Regions from separate parts of the Homo sapiens genome. Here region 1 is linked to region 2. The links come from fine-mapping of genetic effects on gene expression. Tissue or cell type: T cells. Region 2 holds a variant in brackets; the other region holds the start of a gene. All regions are shown on one strand. Distances are from middle to middle.

Region 1 (15,464 bases), 28 kb after region 2:
CTGTGTTGTTTGCTTGTTTGTTCTCTGTATTTTTTGTTTGCTTGTTTGTTCTCTGTATTTTTCAGGGTAGGAGATTCTAGAGCGTGTTCACAGGAGGAGGAGAAAGAGTCAGAAGGAAAAGGCTGAAGACACAGGGGAGGGAGGGGAGCTGATGGAGCGGGAGCCCAGTGCTAACAGCTGAGGGAGAAGGGCACAGGCTGGGCCAGATGGGAGCACCAGTCCTCGGACCCTGGAGGAAGAGCCAAGGGTCCTACAGAGGGAGAGGTCAGGAAGAGAGAAAGGGCACGTAGAACGGCCTTGATATTGGCAGTGAAGAGGGAGGTGAGTCTGCTGCACATGAGAGCTGGACTCAGGAGTGTGAAGTTCTGAACAGTCACGGAGACATATTCTGACTTTAGAAGAACCAAACCATTCCTTTCCTTTCCTCTCCCAGATGCCTCCATCTTTATTAGGAGGGCTTCTTACAGGCAGCACCTACCCTTGTGATTTCAATTGCCATCTGATTATCGGGACTTCCAAGCCTACCGTAGAGCCCAGACCTCCCTCTCTGGAGCTGCAGACAAGCTGCAAGGAGGCCTGGATGGCTCCACCTGCATGTCCATCTTTATTAGCTTGGGGCAGGGCTGGTTTCCACACTGACCCTCAACTCGGCCACTCCTAGAGCTGGCAGTCCCAAGAGCCACTTCACCCCCAACTGCGAGACTGATGTCCACACCCATCAGACCCCCTGTGGGGGCATCCAAGGCCCCCCGCCACTCAGGCCCCTGACTCCAGCTGTGACTGGCATGTGGGGGCCAGCAGAAAGGCCGTTCGCAGATGAGAAGCCCCCCACCACAACTCTTTACCAGCTCTGGGTCTACCACCACTGCTGCAGATGGCGTCTCCTCTCCCATCGTGAGATCAGGTGGGGTTAATACTCCTGTAGCCACTCTGTTCTCAGACAATATAGGGTGCAGCCAGCCAGCAATTCCACAGAATGCAGACAAAGGGACAAACAGTGCCAGGTTCATGGCAATAATGCAGTAACTGTAGTGTGACTGAATGAATGAATTCAAAACTAAAGCACATTGGCCGGGTGTGGTGGCTCACACCTGTAATCCCAGCACTTTGAGAGGCCGAGGTGGGCGGATCACGAGGTCAGGAGATCGAGACTATCCTGGCTAACATGGTGAAACCCCATGTCTACTAAAAATACAAAAAATTAGCTGGGCGTGGTGGTGGATGCCTGCGGTCCCAGCTACTCGGGAGGCTGAGGCAGGAGAATGGCGTGAACCTGGGAGGCGGAGTTTGCAGTGAACCGAGATCATGCCACTGCACTCCAGCCTAGGTGACAAAGCAAGACTCCGTCTCATAAAAAAACACTAAAGCACATCTTCCAGACAGTCTTATTGAGAAGAACCTAAGTGAAGGAATTAACATTTCTTAGTTCCATTTTGCTTTGCGCCCGGGGCAATGTACTACAGTGTGCTTCCAAATACTATGTCATTGAGCTTTGGAAATAGAGAAAGAAAGTATGTATTTTCATCTTCATTTTATAGACAAGATGATTGAGGTTCAGAGAGGTTAAGTAACTAGGTTGAGGCCACAGAGCTACTAAGTAGAAGAGTCGGGGCTGATGGTTTCTGTTCACGGAGGTGGCAGTATTTCAGGGCATTCATTCAGGAGTCAACAGGGTTAAATTCCATCACCTGCTAGCTGTGTGACTTCAGGCACATGATTAAAGTTCTCTGAGTCTCCATTTAACTGCGAAATGGAAATAATAATATCTATCTCCAAGGTTATTGAGAATATTCCACAAAATATGAGAAACATTTAATAGGCTGATTGGGCCCAAGGGCTCGATCCACAGTGGCTATTAATAGTATTGGTTGTTTAGTAACTGTTTTGCTGTGTTCAGATGTTCAGGAAGAGGGGAAATGTCCCTTTTGAAAGCCTTTGGGCCAAGAAGCTACAGAGGCCTGGCTGAGGCTGGACAGCAACACGGAGGTGCCACCTTGTGCAGCAGGAGGTCCTTCCATTTCCTGAGCTGTCCAGGGTGAGCAGGAAGCAGTGGGCAGGCTGGGGCGGGACACTTACAACAGGGGTCAAGTAGCACGTTGCTGGGAAGAACCTTTCTTAACAGAACAGTCTGTTCAGGAGGCAGTTCACACCTGAATCTAATGACCTCCCAGGACAGGGCAGAGGAAGTGGTCAGAAACCCAAAGCAGCACTTCCCAACTGTTTTATGCCCAACGCAGCCGAGGAATGTGGCCATCCATTTGTAATAGCAGCTCAGTGTGGGTATCTCGGGTTGGGGGTGGATGGGCCGCAGCATTTAAAACATCCCCCCTCCACAACCCCAGGAAATTCTGATGTGAGAATTAACAGTCTAAAAGACATAGGAAAGCCTAGGGGGAGAGAAAGTTTTATTTAGGCTGTTTTTGAAAAACAATGAGATAAGTGACAAGCAGGGCTGCCATGTTTGATTGTCTAGGTTGGGCACTGCACGAGGGCATCCTAATTAAGGAGACATCTCTCACACTACATCTTTTTTTTTTTTTTTTTTGAGACACAGTTTCACTCTGTCGGCCAGGCTGGAGGTCAGTGTCATGATCTCAGCTCACTGCAACCTCCACCTCCCAGGTTCAAGCAACTCTCCTGCCTCAGCCTTGCAAGTAGCTGGGATTACAGGCATGTGCCACCATGCCCAGCTAGTTATTTTTTTGTGTGTATTATTAGTAGTGACGGGGTTTTGCCATGTTGGCCAGGCTGGTCTCGAACTCCTGACCTCAAGTGATCCACCCACCTCAGCCTCCCAAAATGCTGGGATTACAGGCATAAGCCTCACACTACATCTTCTCCAAAGTCCTGGCAATGTTGTTTTAGACGATGACTGTACATATTTGTACATTCATTTCAGTCTTTTTCTGATGAATAGAAGAAAAGTGTCTTGAGAAAGAGACATCTTTTTCTAATTCACAAAGGAACCATATGAGTGGGCTGTGGTCCTAGTAACAAAGCGTATGTAACTTATACACAAATTTACAAAATTCAAAATCTTCTGAACCTGCCCCCACCTTTGTGTATCGTGTTGGTGCAAATATAAATTAGAGATTAATCAGAACTTGGTCTAGTAATTTAACAGAATTTCCCATGCCTTTCTTCTGTTACTAAATTTCAAGCTGGAAGGGGCCTTGGAGGTCAGCTAGTTTCCTCCCTTGTAAATGAGGGGTTAATGAGCCGAGATCACACCATTGCACTCCAGCCTGGGCAACAAGAGCAAAACTCCGACTTAAAACAAAAACAAAAACAAAACAAAAAAATGAAAAGCAAAACAAAAAAAAAACCCCAGCAATTTAGTTCTGGAGGCTGGGAAGTCCAAGATCAAGGTGCCAGCTGATTCCACTCCTGGTGAGGACTCACTTCCTGGATTGCAGGTAGCTGTCTTCCCTTTGTCCTCACATGGCAGAGAGAGAGACAGAGAGCAAGCTCTCTGGTCTCTTCTTCTAAGGGCACTAACCCATCATGAGACAACCACCCTCACGACCTCATCTGAATCTAATTACCTCCCGAAGGCCCCACCTCCTAATACCAACACATGGGGGGTTAGGCTTTAACATTTGCATTTGTGGGACGCATGCATTCAGTCTATAACACCTACATAAGGCCATCAGGAGCCAATACCTATCCCAGGGCCCATACCCCTATAGGCATCACACTGGCTGCCAGCTGGCAAGGCCTTCAGCAGGACTGGGAGGAAAGCTTCCTTTTCCAGCTTCCCATCAAGGCCTCCCCAAAATGGTCACCTTGCCACTACAGTGCCTGGTCAGAGCCTGTGTAGTGTGCTCCCAAGGATTAAGGTTTTGGGAGGGGTAGGATACCACCGCATCAATCCTGCCTGAAATCACACAGCCATTGGCTGGGGCTTGGAAGTCTTCTGCTGGCCCTGAGATTTCCACCATCAAGGTAAGAGTTATCCTAGCACTTGATCATAGTCCTGGAGTCTCGAATGAAAAATGGCTTGGTCCACTGCCCCAGGAATGCCTTCTGCAGGGTTTGGCTGATCAGTTGAGGATTCCTGCCCAGTAGCAGGAGCTTGAATCTTCAAACTGTAGACTGTAAACAAGCACATGTACTCAGAGGATCAGAAGGGACTAGGAAGCAAGAAAGCATCTTGTCCAAAGTCTCAGCAAAGGTGTATTGGCATGACTCTAGCATCTGAATGTCTGTCACACCCCAGGAAAGGGCTCTTGGCAAAGGCCTCCCTGCAAGAAGCTCAGAAGACTTCAGACCCCGGCCCTGTCCCTTCCCAATGGCCCATGAGAAAGCCGACTTTCTTGAATAGGAGCCAGAGTTTTGTGTGTGCCTCTCCAGGACATACACCAGGTTTTGCCTGGGAAATATAAATGGCTTCTGTGGAGGGACATTTTTTTTTCTGTCTTTGTTTTGTTGAAGAGAAATCCAAGACCCAGGAAGGGATGTGAGTTGGGCCAAGAACCAGAGGTTTTAAAACACGAAATGGGAAACTCAGACTTCCAGACAGTGGCTCTGGAGCCTGGGTCTGTAATTCAAACACTAAGAAGTATGTGGAATAGTGATTGGTTCTCCAAGAAGAAGAATGGAGGAGAGGGATGGAGGAGTGGGGAGGGCAGAGAGAAAAATGGGGCTCAAAAGCCTGAGCACCATGAGGGGCTGAGATCACAGAGAGCAGAGGAAGGGAGGCACCCAACAGAGGAGGAAAGAGGTGAGGAAGAATGGCTGGGGGCAGATGCTCAACCCCCTGGTAATCAAGAAAATGCAAATGAGATGCTACCACCATCCCACAAAGATGGGCAAAAATTGAGATGGGCGGCAATGCCAAGTGCTAGTGAGAGCACAGAGCAATGGGAGCACTCATGACAGCTGGCAGGTGAGATGCAAATGGGCACAAACCCTTGGGAAAGTGGTCTGGCTTTACCTGATAAAGCTAAAAATGCACAAACCTAATGTTCAGCAATTCCACTCCTAGGAACCCACCCTTGAGAAAGTCTTGCACAGGTGATCCAGGAAAGGAGCTCGAGAGTGTCCAGAGCAGTGCCATGGATAATGGCCAAAATCTGGAAAAAATCTAAATGTCCAACAGGAAAATGAAGGACTAAATCATGGTGCACTCACAACATAGAATATTACAGAGCAATGAAACAAACGACTGCCCCACTCAACACTATGGACGATGCCACAGCGTAATGTTTAGTGAAAGAAGACAGACCCAAGAGACCACACAGGGTATGCCCCTACTTCTATAAAGTTCAAAGAAAGACAAAATTACATCGAGTGTTTAGAAATGCATACATAGGCCCAGCGTGGTGGCTCACACCTGTGATCCCAGCACTTTGGGAGGCCAAGGCAGGCATATCACCTGAGCCAGGAATTCGAGACCAGGCTGAGCAACATGGAAAAAACCCATCTCTACAAAAAAAAAAAAAAAAAAAAAAAAAAAATATATATATATATATATATATTTATATATACACACACACAAAGATTAGCCGGGCATGGTGGTGTGCACCTGTACACCCAGCTACTTGGGAAGCTGAGGTGGGAGGAACACTTGAGCCTAGGAGGCAGAGGTTGCAGTGAGCTGAGATCATGCCACTGTACTCCCACCTGGGGGACAGAGTGAAACCTTGTCTCAAAAAATGAAGCGAAATTAAATTAAAATAAAAATGCAGACATAGATGGAAAACTTGATAGAAAATCAAGGAAAAATTAGTAGCATGATTAACCCTAAGGGGAAGGGAGGCAGCTGTGATAAGGACAGGGCCCACGGGGGTGGGTTCTGGGAGGCGGCCAGTTTTTCTGTTTCTTGGCCTGGGAGGTGGCTACATGGACATTCACTTTATAATTATTCCTCACACTGCATGCATTTTATGCATTCTTCTGTCTGCAATAATAAACTTCCAGCCTCTGTGCTAGTGAGCAGAGTCTGGTGCCTCTGAGGTAGCCGTGGGGTCAATGGGAGGATGCGCTGCCCTCAGAGGCAGGTCTCTCCAGAGCTCAGGTTGACATCTCCCCATCCCTTGCCCCCAACTACCTCCCCCTTTCTTCAAATCTGTTAGTCTCAGGCTCCATGGGCTGAAACTGAGCCAGTCCTGGGAGCCAGCCTGTGGCTAGAAGGCTGCAGGGCCGTCTCCTGCAGGGCATTGGTGAGAAGAGCGAGGGACTGCCCAGTTCAGGATAGAAGCGATTATGGGCCCCTCACACCACTTCCTGGGGCCAGGCACCAATGCCCTGTGGCCTGCCTCAGTGATGCTCCGACAGAGTACGGGCCCCAGTCCCTCCCCTCCCAGCGCTCCTGAGGAAATGGCAGCCCTCTGAGGTCCCCCGCCAGCACCAGCCCTTGTCCTGGAGAAGTGACTGGCAAAACCTTAGTTTCAGGAGACTGAAATGTGCTCCAGAAAGGAACATGCCAATCTCCACCTAACAACAGCATCAACAACAAACAGTAACTTCCATTCTGCGCATGGGCTAACGTGCCAGCTGCCCTCCTGACTGTCTCCATGCTCACAGACAGCACCAAGGGGGCTTTTTTTAAACCCTTCTTCACAGATGAGAAACCTGAGGCTCAGAGAGGCAAAGAGCTCAAGTCCACACAGCCAGAAAGAGGGGGGGTTAGAATTCAAACCCAGAGCAGAGCCCCTCCAAGGCCTATGCTCTCACGGGGTGCCCCAGCACCCCTAAGCACGGGTGCCATCCCCACAGCATGCCCCCACCCTTCCCGGCACCATCGCCCACAGCACCCCAGGGAGCTGTTGCCCTGTGAAGGGTTCACCCTGAGGTAGAGAGCACTGCCCACAGAGGCCATGACTCGGGGAAGGGGTCAGCCCAGGCCAGCCCCTCCTTCCTTGGCTCCCAGTGCTCAGAGAACAGTGAGTCCAACCTCCTCCCCTAGAGCTGCCACATGAAGGCCCAGAAAGGGTCAGAGACATCCCCACGGTCACACAGCCTCCAAGTCACAGCAGGATGCTTTTTCTTTCTCTGTGTGTTTGTGCTTGCTCCAGTTCAGGTCTTTATCCCTCCCTCCAGGGACTTCAGGGGTCCTGACCCAGCCTCCCATTCACCACCTACAATAGATGGCTTGGTGGACCTATCGTCTCTCACCTCTCTGTCCAGAGGCCAAACCCCTGTCACTGGAGGAATCCAGGGTCCTTGGTCTCTATAGAGACGTTGATGCTCATGGGCCCAGGGAGGCAAGGACGGGGCAGCCCCAGGCCTGGCCCACCCTGGCCCCCACCAGCCACACAGTCCTGGGCCGCAGCCTCCTGTCTGAGCAGGGGCTGGGTGGCCACGAGCTCCACTGCTGGCGTGCTCCAGCTCTCAGCAAAGCTCTCCTTGAATAAACAAGGCTGCATAGCAACCACTCGCTGAAGGAGCCCATAGCTCCCTGCGCGGGGGAGAGACCGAGCCGAGAGATTTTCCCCTTGGTCTCATTGCCTCTGTGGCTCACCGGAGCACAGGCACTACCAAGTGGCCGACCTGTCCTCTAGGGTCATGGACACCACAGAAAGAGAGAGCACTGGGCCCCCCTGCCTGGTGACTGCAGCCAGGAAGTGCATAGCTGGCTTGGTGCAGGGATGTTGTTGGTAGAACTCCTGGTTTTGCTCACATGGCCTCTGGGCTCAATCTGCTTCTGTTTACTAACTCTCCTAGAGGCAGAAAGACAGAGTGAGCATCCAGGCCTTGGCAGCAGGCAGCTGGGTTTGAATCCTGATCCTGCTACTTCCAGCTGTGTGCCCTCTGGTCAGAACTTTACCTTTCTTGACCTCAGTTTCCTCATCTATAAAATGGGTACACCAATAGTACTGACTTGATAGGGTTGCTGTAAGGATTTCAAAGGTGCATGTAACAGCTTGTAATTTTGTCTAGCACTTGGTAGGCTCTCCATCACTTCCCCAGAAATCCTTGCAGAGCAGAAAGCCTGTGGCCTTCGTCCCAACCAGATTTCTCCACCTTAACTTTTGGAAAATGTGAATCCTAGCAGCCCATGTGTACTTTCTCACTGAACCCAGGCTCTTGGGCGGAAATCCCAGGCTGGCATCCTCTCTCTGGAATGACAGCCAGTCCCACTCCTCATGCTACCCCCTTCTAGCCCTCACCATCCAGGGGGCACACAGTGGAAGCCAAGGACTCAATTTGTATGCAGGCTTGCAAACAGCCACTCGCCCAAAGATACTATGAATTTTCCCAGGCAGCTCCTCCCCATATTCTGTACAAAGGAATCAGCAGGTGTGTGGAACACACAGGGATGGCTGGTGGGAGGCCAACTACACCCCACGAGGCCTGGGCTGCTGAAATGCTTGCACACGGGGTAGCTCCTTCCTGGGACTCTCTCCTCTTCCCTGAGATGGCCAGGGAGGGCAGGCCTTGGGAGTAGCTGCTGTCATTTACCAAGATCCAGGAGGGAGCAAGGAGGGCCAGCCAATTATGACTGAGAACAAGGTCCCTCTGGGGCAGGTGCTGGCCCCAAGCCAGAGGTCACAGCTGACAAGGCGAACGGAACTCCTGAACTCCCTGTAGCAGAGGCCCAGAAAGGAGACTCTTCCTCCAAACCAGGAACAGTGGCTGTGCGGATTCCCCTTGGGAGACAGGTATGAAGATGCCCAGGTGGGGAAAGAGAGGCCTGGCAAGTTAAGCCCTTGCCCCAAGCCACACAGCTTGTGAGTGAGAGCGACTCAACCATGGGAACCCAGGGCGGGGACGTGACAAGGCAGGTTTTGGTGTCCCTCAGCTCTGGCAGGGAGATGGTGTGTGTGCAGCTCCCCCAAAGCCCATCTGCATGTCGCTGCTTGAGTCGGAGCTTCTAGAACACAGATCCGATGGCCGTGCCCTGCTGGACACCCCTCATGGCCCCTGCTGTCCTTGGTGTAAGGGCCAGACTTAGCACCATGGCTGCCAAGCCCCTCTAATCAGGCCCCACTGCATCCTCCTTCAGCTCCTGGGCTCTCCACACTCTGCCTCCACTGGATGGCCGAGCATTATGTGTTCCCAAGGTGGGCTGGCCATGCTCTGTGCCAAATGCTAGAGACACAGGAGGCAGCACAGCCTGCCCTCAGGAGCTGAGTGATGGAGAGAGGCCCCAGCAGGTAACCCCCTGCTTGTTCCTGTGTTACCTGCAATAAGGGAGGATGGATAACACAGCACAGCCCTTAAGAACCAGGGCTCTGAAGCCCCTGGATTCCAGACTGGATTCTGATCCCAGCAATGACATCTTAGGCAAGAAACAAACTCTCTGAGTCTTGGTTCTTTCATATGCCTAGCAGGAAGACTGCAGATCCTCCCTCCCTGGGGTGGCTCCAGTGACCCTCAGTGTGCCCGCCAGGCACAGAGCACGCACTCACCCTCACTGTGACCATGGACAGAGAGCGAATCCCAGGGGCAGTGAGGTGTGACATCCACATGAAATCCCCGAGGTAAGGAGCAGGCCAGTCGAGGAGCATGGGTGGAAACCGCTGAGGCAAACACAACCTGAGCCCCGGGCCTCTGGGGGAGCCAGGAGCTGCCTGGAAGGATTGGGGCACTCCAGGTGGGGAGGGCAGCCAGGCTGCCACCTGGAAGCTCTCTGGAACTCCCCTGAAGAGACCTCAGAAAGAAAGGGACACGAATCCAGCCCTCAGTCATTTGTTGTGACTTCTTTTCTCATTCTAAAAAAATATTTTCATACTTAATTTTGTTTTCTTTCTTAAAGAAGCCCCCAAATTGTTTAAGCCTCGAGTCTCACAAAGCCTGTATCGACCCCTGGTGGAAGGGCGGCCAGACCCTCGGAAGAGGGTCAACAGCTATGAAGGAAACCAGATGTCACCTGTCTCCTCCAGTGCCCAGTGTTCCCAGTCATTGCCCCGACTCTCCTGGGTGTGCTCACACTGGCCTGCTCCCACCCCCAGAACCGATGAACAAATACTTGATGTGAATGAATTAAACTGACTCACAATACAGAATCACAAGCTGGGAAGAGGGCTCTTGAAAGTACCAAATAAGTAGCCCCCTCCACATCCACAGGGGATAGCCCCCATCTACCCCAGAAATCTACTCAAGATTTCAGAAACCAACATTCTATAACTTTCCATGCTGATGGATTTGGTCAGTGGAAGACTACTAAATTCTGATCCTGTTCCCTCAGTAAAAATGTCACCAAGAGTCCTCTTGGCCCTTGTTGATTTGTAAAGTGAACAAAGCTGTTTCTATGTCTAGCAACAAGAAGGACTAGATACCCTGAACACACTTCCCATTGCAAATGACCTGAGCATCCTATATCCAAATAGTCTCCTGAACACGTAGCTGGGCTATTAGCAGGGACTTCACTGAGGGGTCTTCTCCCCTTGCTCTGGGATGTAGCTGTCATGCTCCTCTCCTCTCCTGGCCTTTGTTCATGCTGTTCCCTCCACCCCAAAAGCCTTTCCCATATCCCTTCCTACCCCTTACTTATACCCATCTCCGGCCGGGCACGGTGGCTCACGCCTGTCATCCCAGCACTTTAGGAGGCCAAAGCAGGCAGATCACCTGAGGCCAGGGGTTCGAGACCAGCCTGGGCAACATGGTAAAACCCCGTCTCTACCAAAAATACAAAAATTAGCTGGGCATGGTGGCGCATGCCTGTAATCTCAGCTACTCAGGAGGCTGAGACAGGAGAATTGCTTGAGCCCAGGAGGCAGAAGTTGCAATGAGTCGAGATTGTGCCACTGCACTCCAGCCTGGATGACAGAATGAGACTCCATCTCAAAACAAAAACAACCAAAAAAAAAACACTTTATACCTATCTCCCTTGGCCAATTCCCACCCACGTGCTCCCAAGGGGAGTCCTTACTGACTCTCTAGAAAAGAGGTGCCTCTCATCTGCCTTTCTAGGGCCAGCACTTCCCTATCACAGCACCACTCATCCGCTGACTGTAACTGCCCGCCCCTCTCCTGGCCCACCAGCCAGCCACACAGACCTAGACTGTGAGCTCCTTGGGGGCAGGATTCATGCCTTATATCTCTGGAACCAGCGCCAGCCAGGTTCCACATGGGTGTTGAGAGAGCGACACCAACCTGACTGCACGTGGGGAGAGGAAGTGGCTGGCGGCATAAGAAGCCCCCGCCCCTGCAACATTCACCGCTTCTTCCAGGACCAGACCTGAGATCCAAGCTGCAGACCAGAGTCTCAGCCCCATACATTGTATGGCAGGGAACAGGTAGGGGGAGTTCTGACCCCCTGGGCTGGTGTTGCCCCCTTATAAACCAGGACCATCCCAGGCCTAGCTGGAGGTCAGATCCCAGGGAGCATGGGGAGCAAGGGCCCCTGGTAGGGACCCTAGGAGGTGGTATGCTCAGGCGCCTCCCCCATCTCTGTCTCAGGTACCCATCCCTCAGGATAAGGTGCCCCCAGGCTAAAGATGGTTAGCATAGGGCATGGCCAAGGGTTCCAGGCAAGTGGACAGAGAGTTGGTTCCAGTCCTGACTTTGTCACCATTACTGTGTGCCCTCCAACAAGTCCCTGCCCTCCTTGGGCTTCCAAACTGTCATTTGTGATCAGACACTGGGTGACCTCCTGGTCCCTTAGAGCCCTGATGCCCTGTGTCCTGGGCCCTGGCCCAGGCTGAGGAGAAAGGCTGGAAGCCCCCCATCCCTTCACAGGCCACGCCCCCCCAGGTAGAAAAGCGGATAATGGAGGCAAGCTGGCACTGCCTCCAGACTGACACTGTGCTGGCTTATCTCCCAAAATACCACTGCCCCACCCCCTCCAAGGCCAGCCCCAGCCTGGAGAGCCTGAAAGGCCCTGTCAGTACCACAGGCTGGGTGGGGGTGCTCAGACACTGCCAAGGACACAGAACAGGCCCCTCCCAACCAGCACCTGCCACTGGGCTGACGTGTTCCCTGGGAAGTTCCTGGGAAACTCTAGAATAATGTATGCAACCTAAGCACAGGATCAGAGAGAGGACTAGGCCAAGCCCCTCTTATCGCAGATGATGGAGTCACACAGGAATTCAGTGGTAATGACAGGATGGGGACTAACGCCTTCTGGTTATGCTGCTTCTGGCCCCAGCTGCCCTTCAGGGCTTCTCCCAACAGAAGCCAACCCCTCATCTCACATGGGGTGTGCCTCTCCCTCCTTTCTCCCCATTCCACAAAAGGACGTGTCAGAGAAGAGCAGCTCCCTGCCCCACAGCCACAGGAAAGCTCGAGAGATGGAGGGCAGGGGGAGGGGAGGAGTTAATAGGTGAGTAAATAACTCCAGAAGCTAATGGCAAAAAAGAATTTGATGGGTTTTTGTTGTTGTTGTTGTTGTTGTTTTTGAGATGGAGTCTCACTCTGTCGCCCAGGCTGGAGTGCAGTGGTGTGATCTCAGCTCACTGCAAGCTCCGCCTTCCAGGTTCACGCCATTCTCCTGCCTCAGCCTCCTGAGTAGCTGGGACTACAGGCACCCGCCACCACGTCCGGCTAATTATTTTGTATTTTTAGTAGAGACGGGGTTTCACCATGTTAGCCAGGATGGTCTCGATCTCCTGACCTCGTGATCCATCCACCTCGGCCTCCCAAAGTGCTGGGATTACAGGCGTGAGCCGCCACACCTGGCCCAGAATTTGATATGTTTTTATAAGAACATGCAAAGAAATAGGAAAATGTGTAAAATGCTCCTAAACTTCCACTTTGTAAAAATTAAGCATATGTTTCACATACTTATAATATGTACATATTCCTGTACATATATTGTCATTTTTTTAAAAAGCCTCCACCAGCAGGGCCCAGTGGGGAGCTGAAATTCCATCCCATCATCAGCAATGAGGAAAGGCATAGGGGTGTGAGGCAATATCCTGCTTTTGCTGAGATGGTATCAGCAAGGCCCAGTGGTGAAGCGAACATCCAATCCCACCTAGATCTGTGTGCTAGACCTAAACAGGATAAATGCCCTGCAAAAAAAGAAGACAGAAGAGGACCTAGAATCTCACAACACAATACCCAAAATGTCTAGGAGACAACTGAAAACCACTCATTATACCAAGAACAGGTAAAATAACTTGAATGAGAAGAGGCAATCAATGATGCAGCGCCCAGATGACACAGATTTGAGGATTCTCTAACAAGGATTTCTAAATAGTCATCATAAAAATGCTTCAATTTGCAATTATGAACGTGCTTAAAACACATTAAAAAATAAAATGTCTCGGCCGGGCGCAGTGGCTCGCACACTGGCTCACACCTGTAATCCCAGCACTTTGGGAGGCCGAGGCGGGCAGATCACGAGGTCAGGAGATCGAGACCATCCTGGCAAACACAGTGAAACCCCGTCTCTACTAAAAACACAAAAACATAGCCGGGCGTGGTGGCGGGCACCTGTAGTCCCAACTACTCAGGAGGCTGAGGCAGGAGAATGGCATGAACCTGGGAGGTGGAGCTTGCAGTGAGCCAAGATCGCACCACTGCACTCCAGCCTGGGTGACAGAGTGAGACTCTGTCTCAAAAAATAATAACAATAAAAATTAAAAAAATAAAACGTCTCAGCAAAGAAACACAAGACACAAAGAAAAACAACTGGAAGTTTTAAAACTAAAAAATACATAATCTGTCACAGGAGTAAAGGGAAAAAAAAAATTTAAGAAAGAAAAATACAATATAAATAACAGCATTAATATGACTATGATAGAGGAAAAAAATCAGTGAACTTGAACATAAAACCATAGAAATTACTCGATAGCAACCAACAGAAAAAATATAGACTGAAAAGAAATGAACAAGGCCGGGCACAGTGGCTCATGGCTGTAATCCCAACAATTTGGGAGGCCAAGGTGGGAGGATCACTTGAGGTCAGGAGTTCAAGACCAGACTGGCCAATATAGTGAAACCCTGTCTCTATTAAAAAAATAATAATAATAATAATACAAAAATTAGCCAGGCATAGTGGTCCATGCCTATAATCCCAGCTACTCAAGAGGCTGAGGCAGGAGAATCACTTGAACCAGGGAGGCAGAGGCTTTAGTGAGCCAAGATCAAGCCACTGCACCCCAGCCTGGGTGACACAGCAAGACCCTGTCTCAAAAAATAAAAATAAAAAAGAAATGAACAGAGCCCCAGGGACCGTGGGACTACAACAAAATATCTAACATTTGTATGACTGGAGTTCAAGGAGAGGAGAAAGGGTGTGGGTCTGAAAAAGAATTCAAAGAAATAATGGCTGGAAACTCTCCAAATATGGTAAAAGATACTAATCTACAGATCCAAGAAGCCAAGCACCCCCACATAGGATGAATCCAAAGAAATCCACATCAAGACACATCGTTAAGAGGCCGAGGCATGTGGATCACTTGAGGTCAGGGGTTCAAGACCAGCCTGACCAACATGGTGAAACCCTGTTTCTACTGAAAACAAAAAAATTAGCTGGGCGTGGTGGTGCACACCTGTAATCCCAGCTACTCAGGAGGCTGAGGCAGGAGAATCACTTGAACCCAGGAGGCAGAGGTTGCAGTGAGCTGAGATTGTGCCACTGCACTCCAGCCTGGGTGACAGAGAGAGACTTCGCCTCAGAAAAAAAAAAAAAAAAGGATATATTATAATCAAAGTTCAGAAAACTAAAGACAAAGAGAAAGTCTTGAAAGCAGCTAGAGATAAACATCCCATTGTCTACAGAGAAACACAATACAAGTGAGAATGGATTTCTCATCAGAAAGCATGGACAACCAAGAGAATGGCAGATTTTTCAAATATTGAAAGAAAAACAAATCTATTAACCCAGGATTCTACATTTTTCAAAAATAAAGACGAAATCAAGACATCGTTAGATAAAGAAAACTAAGAGAATTTGTCACAGTCAGACCTACCCGCAAAGAATGGCTAAGGGCAGGTCAGTCAAAGTGGCTCATTCCTGTAATCCTAGCACTTAAGGGAAGCTGAGGCAGGATGATACCTTGAGGCCAGGAGTTTGAGACCAGCCTGGGCAACATAATGAGACTCTGAGCTCTACAAAAACATTTTTTTTTAATTAGCTGGATGTGGTGATGCATGCCTTTGGTCGCAGCTACTTGGGAGGCTGAGGTAGGAGGATTGCTTGAGCCTAGGAGTTTGAGGCTACAATGAGCCATGATCACACCACTGCACTCCAGCTTGGGTAACAAAGCGAGACTGTGACAAAGGAAAGAAGGCAGGAAGGCAGGAAGGAGGGAAGGAGGGAGGGAGAAGAACGAAGGAGGGAGGGAGGGAGGGAGGAAGGAAGGAAGGAAGGAAGGAAGGGGAAGGGAAGGAAGGGAGGAAAGAAGGAAAGGAGGAAGGAAGGAAGGGAGGAAAGAAGGAAGGAAGGGAAGGAAGGAGGAAAGAAGGAAGGGAAGGAAGGGAGGGGCTAAGCAAAGTTCTTCAAACAGAAAGGCAATCATAAAGGAAGGGAACCATAGAGTTGCTGTCCAAGGAATAAGGCAGGCAGGTGAGGACAGGCTTGAGCCATCTGGATAGAGCCTCGGGGGAGGTGCTGCTCCAGGCCCTGC
Region 2 (15,464 bases):
ACAACTCGTAAGTTGTCAAAATAGAACCAAGACTTCCTGTGTTCCCTTCACCCTTCCCCAGTGATAATATCTTCCACATCCACAGAACGTTCTAACTTCCATTTCTCTAAGGCTCATGCCAGCTGCTGCACGGGAAGGGTCTGGAGCTAGCCTCACACTGGAAGCAGGAAGAGTGTTTAGGAGGCAGCTGAACATCCAATCAAGAGGTGGTGGGGCTTGGACGGCGATGGGGATGGTGGGGTGGGCAGATTCTGGACATGCTTCTCAGGTGCAGCTCACTCTCTTCGCTGATATATGAGGTGCGGGGCGAGAGAGGAAGAGAGGAGCCAAGGACGCCCGAGGTGGTTGACCTGAGCCACTGGAAGGCTGGAGTTGAGTGGGCCCCTGGGGAGAGAGGAGGTTTTCTGAGGTGAGCATTCAAGGGTTGAGTTTTAGACACAGTCAGTTGGAAGTATAATTAGGCACTTAAGCAGAGATATTGAGCAGCAGCTAAACATGTTAGTCTGGAGGTCAAGGGAAGGTCTAGGCTGGCGAGGGAGGTGTGGGAGTCCTCAGCATAGAGATGGTACTTAATGTCTGGACTGGATGAGGACCTAGCGGGTCAGTATAAATAGACGAGAGGCCAGAGGGCTGAGCGCTGGGGGAGTTCCAGCATCCAGAGGCCGGGGAGATGAGGAGGAGGCAGCCAAGAAGGGCTGGGAAGGAGCTGCCTTTCACGTAGGCAGGACCAAAAAAGAGCCACCCCTCACCCCTATCCCTGGCTGGAGAATTCAAGGATGAGACACAAGTCGTATCAAAAGCTGCGATGGGGTCAAGGTAGACAAGGACTAACCGTGGCTGCATTTGGGAAGATGAAGGTCATTGGCAACTCCAATGTGGGCAGTTTCAGTGGGGAGTGTGGACTAATGCCTGTCAGGAGTGGACAAAGGAGAGAAGAGAGACACGGCAATCATTTTCTCTTGGTTTTGTTCCGCTTTCTTAAAATGAAAGAGGTAACAGAGAGCTAACATGCTGATAGCAATGATCCTGTTTCAAGGAGAATATTGTTGATGCCAGAGAGGGAACAAGTGTTGGAACTGAAGGATTAGCTGGATTGAGCAGAACAGCAGGAGAAGGTGGTGAGCCAATGGGATGCTTGAAATTGAGACCATGGTGGGGGGACACACTTTAGAATGCCAAGGCCTACGATGTGGCCACAGGAGGGAGCGCAGAAGTGGGGTGGAGGATCAGCTCGTTTCGCTGCACTGAATCATTGTTTGTGTTTCCTGTTCTGTGGTCCTCTCTACAGTGGGAGGGTTGTGGTGCTGATTTAACAGTCACCCAGTCTCTAACAGAGAATATGCACCCAGGAGGCCTTCAAGATATGCTTCTTGACCTGGAATGTTCTGTCTCAAAGAATGAGCACAGGCTCCTCACTACAGTGACTCCCCAAGCTTCACTAAATTCGTTCCAACCAGGGAAGAGACCACCTTCCAAGGTCACCTGAGAAGTGTGAGGTATTCGCCAGTCCCTGGAGCACAGCCCGTGGCTGATCAGCCCTGAGTCAGCTGCCTCTCATTTGCTATCTTGGGTGTTAGTTCAAACCACGCAGCGCAGTTCACCTAAGGCTTCCTGCTCTCTCCCCACGTCCGGCTTCCTCGTGAGCCCTGTGCAACCTCCCCGTCCTCCTTCCTTCCTCCCTCCTACCCCTTCAGCAACCCTCTGCAGTCTTCCCTGCACCTAGTTCCCCACCCCGCTTCTGACCCCCATCCTTTCTCTTCCTTTCTTCAGCCTTCACCCCAACCCCGTCTGCAGGTTCTGGCCTTTAGTACTTGGGTGGCTGCCTCGGGCTCTCCTTGCTCTGCTCTGTGGCTGGTCCCACTCTTGAATACTTCAGACACTTGCTTGCCTTCCTGCAGCCTGCGGTCCACTCCAGCCCCACTTCCTCCTCCTCCCGCTCCCCAGGTACCTTGGTGCCGATCTCCTTCTGGTCCTCTTCTTTCAGCGGAGGGCAGGCTTCTCTGGCACAGTCAAAGGAGAAGGCTGTCAGCGTGGGAGCAGACTGAGAAAAAGGCAGGGCAGGCTTCTTGGCAGCGGCAGGCCTGTCTCTGATGGGTGAGGCCAAAGGTTTTGGCTCTGAGGGGTTGAGAACAGGGGTGGAGCTGAAGACACCCAGGTCACTGCTGAGCTCACTGACCCTGTGGCTGGCTCAATTCTACTGCTAAGCCCCACACCCTCAATTCTTCCTCAATGGAGCAAGACCTGAGTTAGGTTTACTGTACAGGGCAGCACTGGCAGGCATGAGACAGACTACCTGTGGACCAGCATCACCCTCCATTCGTTCATTCACTGCACACTTTATTCCAAGATAGGTGTGGGATTGGGGAGGCTGGGCGGGAAACAGGGCCAGATGTGTTATCCAGGAGATGTAAGACATTTCCTGAGAATATAAGTAAGTGTATCTGTCCTGGGAGGTACGTACGGCAGGAAAAGAAAAAGCAAAATGGGCCCACCAATCCTTTCATATGACCATGGGCTTGCCTGAAAGCATGACGCAGCAGGAAAGGGCAGAGTTGCCAGGACCAGAGATCTAACACTAGTCCAGTCTCATTTCACAGACGGAAAAGCTGAGAGCCAGTGTGATGGTTAATGTTAGGTGCCATCTGGATTGGATGCTTACATAGCTGGTCAAGTATTGTTTCTGGGTGTGTCTGTGAAGGAGCTGCCAGAGGAGATCGACCTTTGAGTCAGTGGACTGGGAGAGGAGGACCCATCCTCAGTGTGGGTGGGCACCATCCAATCAGCTGCTAGCTGCCATCGCAGCTAGAACTAAGCAGGTGGAAGAAGGTGGGATCACCTTGCTTGCCGGGTCTTCTGGCTGCCTGCTTTCTCCCCTGCTGGACGCTTCCTTCTACTCCTCCTGCCCTTAAACATCAGACTCCAGGTTCTTTGGCCTTTGGACTCTGAGACTTGCACCAGTGGCTTGCCAGGGGCTCTCGGACTTTTGGTCACAGACTGAAGGCTGCACTGTTGGCGTCCCTGGTTTGAGGCTTTCGAACTTGGACTGAGCCACTACCAGCCTCTCTCTTCCCCAGCTTGCAGATGGCCGCCTGTGGGACTTCACCTTGTAATCGTGTGAGCCAATTCTCCCTAATAAACTCCTTTATATACAGACATATATCCTACTAGTTCTGTCCCTCTGGAGAACCCTGACTAATACAGCCAGTAACCTTCGAATGCTCTTGGGATGGATAAAATACCCGTTCACTTCCACTTGATGGCATCAAATCCACAGTATTGCTTTGTCATTCATATCTTCCCCATCAGCGGATTTTAAAGGTACATTTCTCATTATGAAGGCAGGGCTCAAACAGGTTCATTCATTTTCTGCCACCCACAGGGTTTGGAGCTCACTGTCCTTGGGTGAACCTGCAAGTCAGGGGTCTGCTGAGATGGGGCCACCAGCTGAGGCTGCCTGAGGCTGGAAAAGGCATCTTACCTCTGGGGCCCGTGCAGAGCTCCCAGGTCACCCAGGTCCTCTGCCCAGGCCATGTCTTCTGCAAAGGATTCCTCTGCTTGGTGCAGGGAGAAGGATCAAGGGCCAAGGGGGAAGAGGGGCTTTGAAGCCTCATCTGCCCAGAGGTAAGAGGCAGAGCAGAGGGCACATGTGGTAGGCACCACCTGGCCAGGGCAAGGACTGCAGGAATGCCACAGATGTGAGGAAGCCCCCAGCTTCAGACAAGACCCTGTGAGCCCCTACCATGTGCTAGGCATGTTGCACACAGAGGGCAGTGTCAGCCCAGTTGCCAGCTGGAGGGCAGAGAGCCCTTTAAGGACTTAACTATTTTTTATGTCACTTCTTCACCTCCACCCCAAAGGGATGCCCTGGAAAGCCCTGTCTGAGCAGCCTGCCCCTGCCACAGGTCCCTGGTGACCTGGTTCTCAAGCAGCAAGCTGGAGAGCCAGGGGAGGAAGTGGTTACTGACTGGGGTCTCCTGGCCCAACCCCCACACCAGCGTCCTCCGGGTTAGCTCTTAAGGTCACTCAGGGTGCCGGTGCATTTCGCCACAGACTGCCTGAGCTCACCCTGCTGCAGCCTGGCCCGGGAGCAGGGGAGAAGCAGCTGCCGCAGAGGTTTCTTGTGCCAGGTCCAGCTTTGTGTCTTGATCCCAGGGCCTCTTGGGCAACAGCCACCCCCCTTCGCCAACTGCCCCACCAGCTGAGCTGATTAGCAGAGTGACCTGCCAGGAAGCTGGTCCTGGGGAGGCCACCCCTCCTGCCGGGCAGTAGAGCGGCTGCCTCCAACTCCTCCCCACCCTGGCCTGGGTTCGGGGTGTTCTGCTCCCCAACCCTGCAGCAGAGGCTCAGCTTCCATCCACCCGTCCCACCTCCCCATAGAGTTCAATCCAGGAAGGATCCCTCCTCCCTCTTTAAAGGCCTCCTACCCTGCCCTGTCCCCTCTCCTCGCCTCAATCCTGTGCTGGCCCTATATCCTGACAGCTAAAGCTCCTGGGGCCAGCTGGCTGAGGTTTGTGGGCTCTGGTTTACCCTCTCATTCTCTAGGTGAGGAATACTCTCTCTACTTGCTTAACACACCGCAAGGGGCAGCTGCTTGATGTGTCAAGACCCCAGCTTTGGAGCCGTGGAAACTTGGCTGCAAGCCTGATGGGGCTCAGCGACCAGGGAGGACATCCTGCTCACAGAGCCTTCGTGTGCCAGCTCGTCTGTCACACACGGCCAGAATTGTCTCTCTTATCGAGGCCGTGGCAAGCTGCACAAGCTGGTGTACGTCATCACACCTGACGTACCAGAGCAGGTGTCAATAAATGTCACTTCTCTTCCACACCTCGCCCGGGCCCGCTGCCACCCTCCGGTTAGACCTCCGGTGACTTCAGCTTCCTGCTGTGAAATGAAGGGCCCAGACACAAGAGCTCTCAGATCTCCTCTGGCCCTAATTCTGTTTCCCTGACCCAGCCCAGGAATGTAGAGAGTCAAATAACAAAGGGAGGTGTGCATGGAAGATACGTACCCAGAGATGCAGGGGTCTTCTCCCGAGGCCCACTCCCCCGAGCCAATCTTAAAAGAACGGGGGAGAGAAAAGCATCATGAGGGATGGCCAGCCAGAGACACTGCTGGGGGAGCCCAGGGTGGCTCCAGGATGGGGCAATGGCCGAGATGGGGGACAGAGGGGACGGCACTGTTATCCCTGCAGAGGCTCTTGGCCCAGGATTCAAGCTGCAGGAGATACAGCTCCCTCTGCAAACACAAGGGCAGGCTGACCACCAGGCCAGGTTCAGCCCCATTTCCTGGCAGTGCAGCTCGCGCATTCCCCAGGAGGCTGACACCCACACAGAAACTGCTGACTTAAAGGAAGCCCCCACCCTCCCGCTGTGCTGCTTGGGCCTGTGGAGTTGACAGCAGCTGCAGTAAACAAGGGTAAACTGCCTCCCAGCTTAGACAGCACTGAGCTCAAGTTCTCCAAGCTGCCCCAACCCCGTGAGAGCTCAGTGACCCCTAAATAGTCCCACTCGTGATTGTAATCCCCATCCCAGGGCCTGGGGGGCGGAGCTGATCCCCTTTGCTGTGGCAGGAAGTCACCACTGTTTTGTACCAGAAGCTCAATCCCAATTACCCACAGGAGGGGGAAGACAGTGGCATCCCTGGCACTGGTTTTAATTGTAATTTCTTAAGTTGGAAGCACCATTTACTTATTCAACAGATATTTACTGAAGACCTACTATGTGTCAAGCACTATTCTAGACACTGGGAATGGAGCATCAATAAGACATGACACTCCCCGCCCTCCGGGAGCTCAGGTTCCCATGGAGACCAGCCCTGCAGCGTCCTACATG[G/T]CTTTCCCTTCTCGGTGGACATCAGGACCCACTGGGGGGCTGACAGAGTAACAAGCCACAGCAACAGGTCAGGAACACAATATCCCACACACTGGCCTCAGAGGATCACAGTCCAGGCCGGGCTGCAGGAGGGGCGGTAGGACAGCCCCCCTCAGTGCCTGCCTGGATGCAGGGGAACCCTGATCCTTGGGGACTGTGGAGGTCAGGGGAGTCCACAGGAGGAGCGGAGCTTCAACCTGGGCGTAGATCAGCCGGGATTCGCCATTGCTCCCAGGGCCAGGCCCAGCCTCTTGGGTCTGGACCCACAGGGAGGGATCGTGTGGGCTGGAGATAGTAAGCGAATGCTCCAGGGCACCCCTGACCTGGGGAGCTCGCCCACTAGGCCTTTGCCATTGTAACCCACCACTGCTTAACCACTGCCCAACGGCACTAAGAGGATTGGAGGCGGGCGGGGAGGGGAAGTGGAGCATCAAAGTCCACACAGTTGCCCTTGGCTTCTATGAGCTCATGGAGGTCCCAGGCTGCCTGAGGTGAGCACAGGATGCCAAAAACCCCAATGCTTATGCCTCGGCTTTGCCCCTGGGGCCCTGAGCTGCAGCCTCCCCCGCTCTGCGCCCCCCCAACACACACACACACACACACACACACACCTGCTCTGAGCAAGGGATTTGGCCTCAGAGGACTTGGCGCAGCTTCTCTTAAGCTGTGGACCCTGGGGAAGCCTCTTGCCCTCCCCTTCTCTAGCGACCCCACAGCAGAAAGGACTGAGGCCAAGACAGGCCATGCCGATCAGGGCCCCTGCCTTCCTGCACGTGGCAGCCCCGCCCCACCCTGTGCGAACCTCACAGAAAACCCACCACCGCTCAGGCTCCTCCGCAGGCCCCAAGGAGGTGGGTGGAGCAGGAGCAGCAAAGCCCTGTTTCCAGCAAGAGCCCCTCCCGGCTCCAACCCAAACGTCTAAGCATGTCCAAGAGTGGCCTCAGCACTGTCCCCAGCACCTGCCTCTTCTCCTATGCCCTGTCTCCAAGAAGGGTGCCAGTATCTGTCCAGTGGCTGAAGCCAGGAACCCCGGCATGGTCTCAGCTCCCCCATCTTCAGCCCACATCTACCCCGTGGCTTAGCCCTGCCATTCATCCCGCCCCGCCCCCACCTCTGCATCCTCAGCCCACAGACTCCCTGCCTCTGCCCTGCTCAGCCACCCTTTGCCTTCTCCCCGGATTCCTGCAGCAGCCCCACCTCCATCTACACGGTCCATGCCACTCTGAGGTTGCCAACATGGCCTTTCTAAGTCACAGCAGATGCCACTTTCACACCCGAAAGCCTTTGGTGGCACCTCCTTACAGGAGGATGAAGCTCCCACTTCTCAGTTGGCACACAGGCCCTTCACCCCCACCCCGCAGGCTGTCACGCAAGGATGCAGGGGCTCACTCCTCCTTCCGTCTCTCCCTCTTCCACCTCCATCTCCATCTCGCAAGTGTGCCCTCATCCTGCCCTGAGAAGTCTGCCTGGCATGATTCAGATCTCTTTCTCCTGGGTCACCAACATGACAGGCAGCCTTCGCCTACGCACCCACCTCTCTGAACTTCACCTTGATGACTTCCTGGCTGGAGCACACAGATTGTGACCTATGCACCTGGCACATAGTAGGTGCTTAACAGCTTTTAGGTGAGTAAACGGACAGATGGATGACTGAAATGGTAATAGAGCCTCCATCCCCTCCATTGGCTAGAGAGCCCCACATTGTCAACAAAGGGAAATCCATGTCACAAACCAAACAGGAAAGGACAGATATTTATTACGGAACTAATCCATGCCAGGTACCAATCCTGGCCCCACAGAAGCCACAGAGGTTTTTGACATATGGCCCCTGCCCTGTGGTGCTCCAAGTTAAAGAACAGAATGAGGTTTAAATAAAATAGGCTGGCCAGGTGCGGTGGCTTCTACCTGTAATCCCAGCACTTTGGGAGGCCGAGGTGGGCAGATCACCTGAGATCAGGAGTTCAGGACAAGCCTGGGCAACATGGTGAAAGCCCAGCTCTACTAAAAATACAAAAATTAGCCGGGCCTGGTGGTGCATGTCTGTAATCCTAGCTACTTGGGAGGCTGAGGCAGAAGAATTACTAGAACCAGGGAGGCAGAGGTTACAATAAGCAGAGATCGTGCCACTGCACTCCAGCCTGGGTAACAGAGCAAGACTCCATCTCAAAAAAATATATATATTTTTAATTGGCTGGGTGCAGTGGCTCACGCCTGTAATCCCAGCACTTTGGGAAGCCAAAGTGGGCAGATCACCTAAGGTCAGGAGTTCAAGACCAGCCTAACCAATGTGATGAAACTGCAGCTCTACTAAAATTACAAAATGTAGCCAGGCATGGTGGCATGCTCCTGTAGTCTCAGCTACTCGGGAGGCTGCGACAGAAGAATTGCTTGAACCCAGGAGGCAGAGGTTGCAGTGAGCCAAGATCGTGCCACTGCACTCCAGCCTGGGTGACAGAGTGAGACTCCATCTCAAAAAATAATAACAATAAAAAATAAAAAACAAATAAATAAAACAAAATAAATAAACAAAATAAATTTAAATAATCAAGATTTGCTTATTTTGTTTAATGGAAGGGAGGGGCTGAGGCAGTCCCTGGGCTGGATGCCTGTGGACAATGCAGAGAAGACCACTTCCCCTCCTTGCCGCCCTTTAAAGGGAGAGTAGGTAGACATGGAACAGTGGAGATGAAATGAATGGGTGGGGAAAGGGGTGAGAGGCTGTTGGGGTTGCAGAGATGGACGAGGGGAAGCACCATGTCCCCTCGTAAATGGATGGATGGATGAGTGAAATGGTAATAGGTCCTCAGGGTCTGGAGGGGTAAGAAGGCCCCACAGAACAAGCACTGGGGGACAGCGGGGAGGAACTGTGGGGTCGTGGGCTGGATGGACCCTGATTGTCAGGCCAAGGAGACTCAGCATTATGCGCCTGGGTCCTTGACACAAAGGACCCGCCATTCATTCAATCAGGAATGTCAATACAGGCAAAGGGCCTGCAAGAGGTGTGCAAGGTGGCGGGGGAAGCAGGAAAATGAAAGATGGGGATGGAGCGCACAGGGCTGCAAGGATACTGGCTAGGCACTATTAGGGGAGGTCAAGAAGGAAGCGGAAGTACAAACCAAGAGGGAAAGGCAGGGGCAAGAAAGGGGTGGAGCTTTCATGGCTGTTAAGAAAGACTTGGGGGCTATGGAAATGTGTTGGAGCAGGAGGCACTAGGAGCAAGGGTCAAAGATGACACTGAGACTTGAAGGCCAAGAAGAAGGTCTGCACCTTGACAGCAATGAGGAGGTCTTGGGAGGGGGTGGTTTGGGGAAACACGAGGTGGTCCTTGTTGCCATGATGGTGGCACAACCTCCCTGTCTCTCCCTCTGGTGCTGGATCACATCAGCCAGGAGAAACTGGAGATGCCCAACAGAAAGATGGAAACCCGGAGCCTGACCTGTGGATGGTTCCAGGGCTAGAGCAGGAGATGTGAACTCACCCACATTCCACCATCTGGAAGACTTGGGCACACATAAGGGCCCCAGGAGAAAACAGGAGATGGGGGCAAACAGTCCTGGAACAATTTTGGGAATGGCAGAACTTAGAAATGGAAGAGGGCACACAGGAAGCTGCCTGGAAGGTCGAGAAGCAGGTATAAAGTCAGGATGCAGAAAAAGAAGAAAAATTCAAGGGCCATCCATGGTTCAAATGATGCAAAAAAGTCAAGAGTAAAGAGATAAGAGGAAAGGCCACAGGTCTGGGGCCAGTGAGTCATGAGAGGCACAGATAAGGCTGCTCCGAGGGGAGGAAGAGGCCAGCGTCTGAGTGGGAAAGGGGAGGACGTGTGCAATGGTGAGGAGGCGGAGGTCAGTGGAGCAAGCTGCTGTCTGAGGAGGCTGACGGTGAAAACTGAATAGAGAACTCGAATCCAGGAGCAGGTACATGGACGGGTCTCTATAACCCACAGGGTCGGAGAAAGACATGAATATGTGTGTGCACAGAGGGAAGGCACCAGGGAGATGGAGGGAATGAGGAAGTGTGAGAAAAATGGAAGAATCCAAGTCATCAGGCCCCAAGAAACGGGAGGGAAGCAGTCACAGCAGGAACTGGATTGTGACTCTACTGAAGGAGCCAGGCCCATAGGCCCTGAGCACACGCACACACACTCCACACACATGCACTCACACATACACATGCACTCACACACAGATACACATGCACACACATGCACACACACAGATACACATGAACACACATGCACTCACACACACGCACTCACACACATACACATGCACACACATGCACTCACACATACACACATACACACACATGCACACACTCCACACACAGGCACTCACACACACACATGCACACATACATGCACACATATACACTCCACACACATGCACACACACTCCACAAATGGCTTCACACACAGTCACACACACAAACACATGCACTCACACACATGCACACACATGTGGTCACACATGCTCACACATGTACTTACGCACATGCATGCTCTCACACACATGCACACACATATGCACTCCACACACATGCACCCCACACACACACACGTGCTCTCACACATACACATACACACACACTCCACACATGCACTCACATACATATGGTCTCACACACACACGCACACATACACACCCTACACATGCACTCATACGGTCTCACACACAAATACACATATGCACACATACCCCACACACACACTCCACACACATGCACTTACACACACGCACTCACACACATACACATGCACTCACAACATGCACTGACACATATGCACACACATGCACTGACACATACACATGCACACACATGCACTCACACACATGCACTCATACACATGCACACACAGATACTCCACACATGTACTCACACACACACATACACACATATATGTGCTCACACACATGCACACATGCACTCACACATGCACGCACTCCACACATGCACTCACATGCATGCTCACACATGCATGCCCTCACACACATACACACATGCACACACACTCCACACATGCACTCACATGCATGCTCACACATGCATGCCCTCACACACATACACACATGCACACACACTCCACACACATGAACACACACCACACATGGCTTCACACACGTAGTTACACAAACACATGCACTCACACACATGCACACATGCACACACATGCAGTCACACATGCTCTCACATACATGCACTCACGCACATGCATGCTCTCACACACGCACACACACACTCCACATACATGCACCCACATACATGCACGTTCTCACACATACGCTCCACACATGCACACACACGGTCTCACACACACATGCACACATACCCCACACACACACATGCACACACACACATATGCACACACACTCCACACACATGCACTCACACACATGGTCCCACACACATATACACACATGCACACATACCCACACACATGCACACACACACTGCACACATATGCCCTTACACATGCACTCACACACAACATGCACTCACACACATACACATGCACACACACCCATACACATGCACTCACAACATGCACTCACACATACACATGCACACACATGCACTCACACACATACACATGCACACACATGCACTCACATACATGCACTCACACATACACATGCACACACATGCACTCACACACATACACACATGCACTCACACACATACACATGCACACACATGCACACACATGCACTCACACACGTACACATGCACACACATGCACTCACACATGTACACATACACTCCACACACATGCACACACAACTCCACACAGATGCACTCATACACATACATGCACACACATACTCCACACATGCACTCAGACACACTCAGACACATACTCTTGCACTCATGCACACACACACTCAGACACACACACACATGCATGCACTCACACATATACACATACTCAGACACACACACTCTTGTACTCACATACATGCATATACTCACATATACATGCACACATACACACTCATACACATACACTCACACATACCTGCAGGCACTCATACATGTGTGCACACACAAAGACACTCAGACACACTCACTCTCACACACACGTGCTCTGACATCACTCTGGACTGACCACGGGGATGTTGCTGGCCATCTAGAGCACTGTCTTACTTACAAGCCATAACCCGATTTATGCCAACACAAAGATCCTCTTCCCCACTTGTTTGTGGGATATGAAGACCCCTTTTCAAGTCCAAAAGTTTGTGGACTGTCCCCCATACACATGATACTGGTTGTATTTTTAGTATCCATCAATTAAGAAAATATTTAATTACAAAGAGCTGCCATGAACTCAATCATGCTTTAAAATAGTGTTTTATTCATAGCCGGGCACGGTGTCTCACACCTATAATCCCAGCACTTTGGGAGGCCAAGGAGGGCAGATCACCTGAGGTCAGGAGTTTCAAGACCAGCCTGGCCAACATGCTGAAACCCGTCTCTACTAAAAATACAAAAATTAGCAGGGCATGGTGGTGGGTGCCTGTAATCCCAGCTACTCAGGAGAATCGCTTGAACCCGGGAGGCGGAGGTTGCAGTGAGTTGAGATCACACCACTGCACTCCAGCCTGGGCGACAGAGTGAGACTCCATCTCAAAATTATATATATGAGATAAAATAATTAGTGTTTTATTCATTACTCCGGCAACCTCATCCACTAAGGCACTGGGAGAAGACAGAGGCTGGAGACATTGTTCGTGATGCCATTGACCCAGCCTGCCGGAGCCAAGAGGCAGAGAAGCCCCGGCAACCATGCTGGGACCTCCCTAGGTCTGTGGCTCATGGGTGGAGCCCCCAGCCCTTTCCCTGCCTGGTGTCCCAAGAACTCTGCCACAGCATGGAGGGTCAGCCACAAGGAGCCCCAGTGGATCTCAGGGGGACAGAGGGAGAGAAGTCAGCAAGGAAGGTTTGACTTGGAGCTCTTACCGCGTGCGTGGGGCCCTCAGGCCTGTGAGGACTCCCTGGCCTGGAGGTAACGGGCTGGGAAGGGAGCCAGGCACACGGGAGGGGGTCGCTGCAACCGTCCTGGCCTTTGGGATGGGTGGGATCACGATGGCGCCCAGGGACTTCTGCATCTTCTCATCATTGCAGTGCAGGTATTGCCAGGAGATCTGCGCCTGGGAGCAGAGGCGGGACAGGGGTCTGGCCTATGGCAACATCCCATGGTGAATGCTCACCTCCAGGCACCTCACACAGTGTGGGACCTGCTGTCTCTTTTCAGCCACACCACCCTGGGACCCCCAGAAGCCTGACTGCTTCCTTACCACTCCTGGTGAGGAGACTGGCAAGCCCTTTTGTGACTATTATTATTCGTTTTTCTGTTCTCATTTCAGAAAAATCCTAGAACATCAGAGCTGGAAGGACCTTCAAACACATCTGGGCCAAACCTCTATTTTCATAGATGTGCAAACTGGGGCCCAAAGAGGGGTGTGACTTGCACAAGGTCACACAGCCAGTGAGGGGCAAACAGAAACCAAGGCCCAAATCTGAGTCCTAGCCCAGCATTCTTTGCCACACTCTTGCTTAAAATGGAGAGGGCCAGAAAGCAGGAGGAATTCTGGAACATTTAGACCAGAGAAGGCCTAGGGGACCACCAGTTCTAGGACAAAGGTCATGCAGCCTCTGGCACAGCCACCCAGAGCCCCCAGGCCAGCTATGGAGGTTTGAGATGCTGGGGGAGGTGGTGAAATGAGCACCTTGAGCCTCTCCCAGTGCTGTCCCTATCCTCACTGCAGACCTCAAGACACCTCCAGGGATGCTCAGGGCATGGAGTCAGGGGTTGGTGGAGGCTAGAAAGAAAGGCAGGAGGAAGGGAGGGCAAGAAGCTGAGGACCAGACTCACAGCAGTCGAACCACCTTACCTCCTGAGCACCGGGTCTCAACTCGTGAGGACCCGGAATGCTCCCCGGTAGGTCCAGGCCCTTCTCTTTGACTCCGCTGGCCTCAGGGGTGGTAGGGATGCTCTGGATGAGAGGCATCGGCCTGGGCACCCTCAGCAGCCTCTGAGAGGTGGCTCGGGGGATGGTGCTGTGCAGGGGAACTCCTTGGGGGCCTCCCCCTGGATCCAGAGAGGCTGTACAGGGATGGGGATGGGAAATCAGTTAGTCCCAGAAGAACAGGGAGTGGAAGGTGGATTCAGACCCCAGCAACGGGGCCTTCTGCCCTGGGAAGGACTGGGATGGCGAGGAGAGAGATCAGATCTGTCCCCAACCCCACCACTGGTAGACTGAGCAAGCAGCCACTTCTGAGTGTCTGTGCCATTCCAGAAAGGGCCAATCCAAGTTACCTGTTTAGAATTCAGAGGCAGCGTGGGAAGGAAGGGAAATAAAAGCAGTGCCAGATCAGGAGGAAGCATGGCAGGTCCTGGCCGTGGGTAGAAGCTATGTGACCTCGAGCAAGGCACTGTCTCTCTGAACCCCATTACACTTCTGTGAAATGGGGTGATTCAATAACATCACTTATATAAGATGCCAGGCAAGTACCTGCCACTGTTTCCCCTTCCTTTTCGGCTGGTGATGTGGGGCGTAGCTGTTTTGACACAGCTAACATAGTCTAAGACAGACCGCCACACTTCCAGCTCCCCTCTGAATGCTTTAGGTGCCCAACAGACATCTTCAGCGCCCTGTGCCCCACCCCATCTCACCCCACAGCCATGCCTCAGGCAAAGGCACAGGGCAAGAAGCACTGGGTTGGGCCAAGAGCTCAGGGTTATCTTTGTAAATATCAGTGATGAGGAATAAAAAAAAAAAAAAGACTAGCATTTTAACTTTCATTCTGGCCTCAACAAAACCACTGCATCAAAACAGCCAAGTCAGGCCAGGCGCAGTGGCTCACGCCTGTAATCCCACACACTTTGGGAGGCCGAGAACGGGAGGATCACTGGAGGTCAGAAGTTCAAGACCAGCCTGGCCAACATGGTGAAACCCCATCTCTACTAAAAATTAGCCGGGCGTGGTGGCACATGCCTGTAGTCCCAGCTACCGGGGAGGCTGAGGCAGGAGAATCGCTTGAACCTGGGAGGTGGAGGTTGCGGTGAGCCGAGATCGCACCACTGCACTCTAGACTGGGCAACAGAGCAAGACTCGGTCTCAAAAAAAAAAAAAAGATTAGCTGGGCCTAGTGGTGGTTGTCTGTAATCCCAGCAACTCAGGAGACTGAGGCAGGAGAATCACTTGAACCCAGAGGTTGCAGTGAGCCAAAATCGCACCACTGCACTCCAGCCTGGGTGACAGAGCGAGACTCTGTTCCAGAAAAAAAAAATTAAAAAAAAATAAACCAGCCAAGTCAAAATATCATCTCTGTTCCTGCACACTCGCTCCCCTCCTGGCTTCCGGTGCTGGTTCTGTTCTGTCTTGGAGCACTGTTGTGTTGTGGTTAGCCTGTGGGGAGCTGAAAGGATGGAAAAGAAGGGGTGTGGTCAAGTGGAGACTGTGCCACTTGCCGGGCCACCTTGAGCCCCAGCTGGGTCAGGGCACAGAGGAGTCAACTCAGCCTCAATGCAGGGGCCAGAGCAGCCCCAGCACTGCCCGGGGGCCAGAGATCCCCGGCCCTCCATGCTTGCTG

Evidence for each region. PIP is the estimated chance that this variant, and not a neighbour inherited with it, causes the effect.
Region 1: it holds the start of TOGARAM2, and the variant in region 2 is fine-mapped to the expression of TOGARAM2 in T cells (TOPMed, PIP above 0.99).

What each region holds. Positions count from the first base shown.
Region 1 is chr2:28,973,194-28,988,657 of GRCh38, reverse strand. It overlaps TOGARAM2 (TOG array regulator of axonemal microtubules 2), which reads right to left and starts at 7,360. Exons shown (of 20, transcript NM_199280.4): 1 at 7,120-7,360.
Region 2 is chr2:29,001,046-29,016,509 of GRCh38, reverse strand. TOGARAM2 (TOG array regulator of axonemal microtubules 2) reads right to left here. Exons shown (of 20, transcript NM_199280.4): 5 at 13,763-13,974; 6 at 12,828-13,018; 7 at 5,009-5,055; 8 at 1,949-2,115. Among named protein-coding and RNA genes, the nearest start is that of TOGARAM2, 27 kb to the right of the region's middle. RefSeq lists enhancers at 1,143-1,192, 5,219-5,348. The variant G/T (reference allele first, on the strand shown) is at 5,832.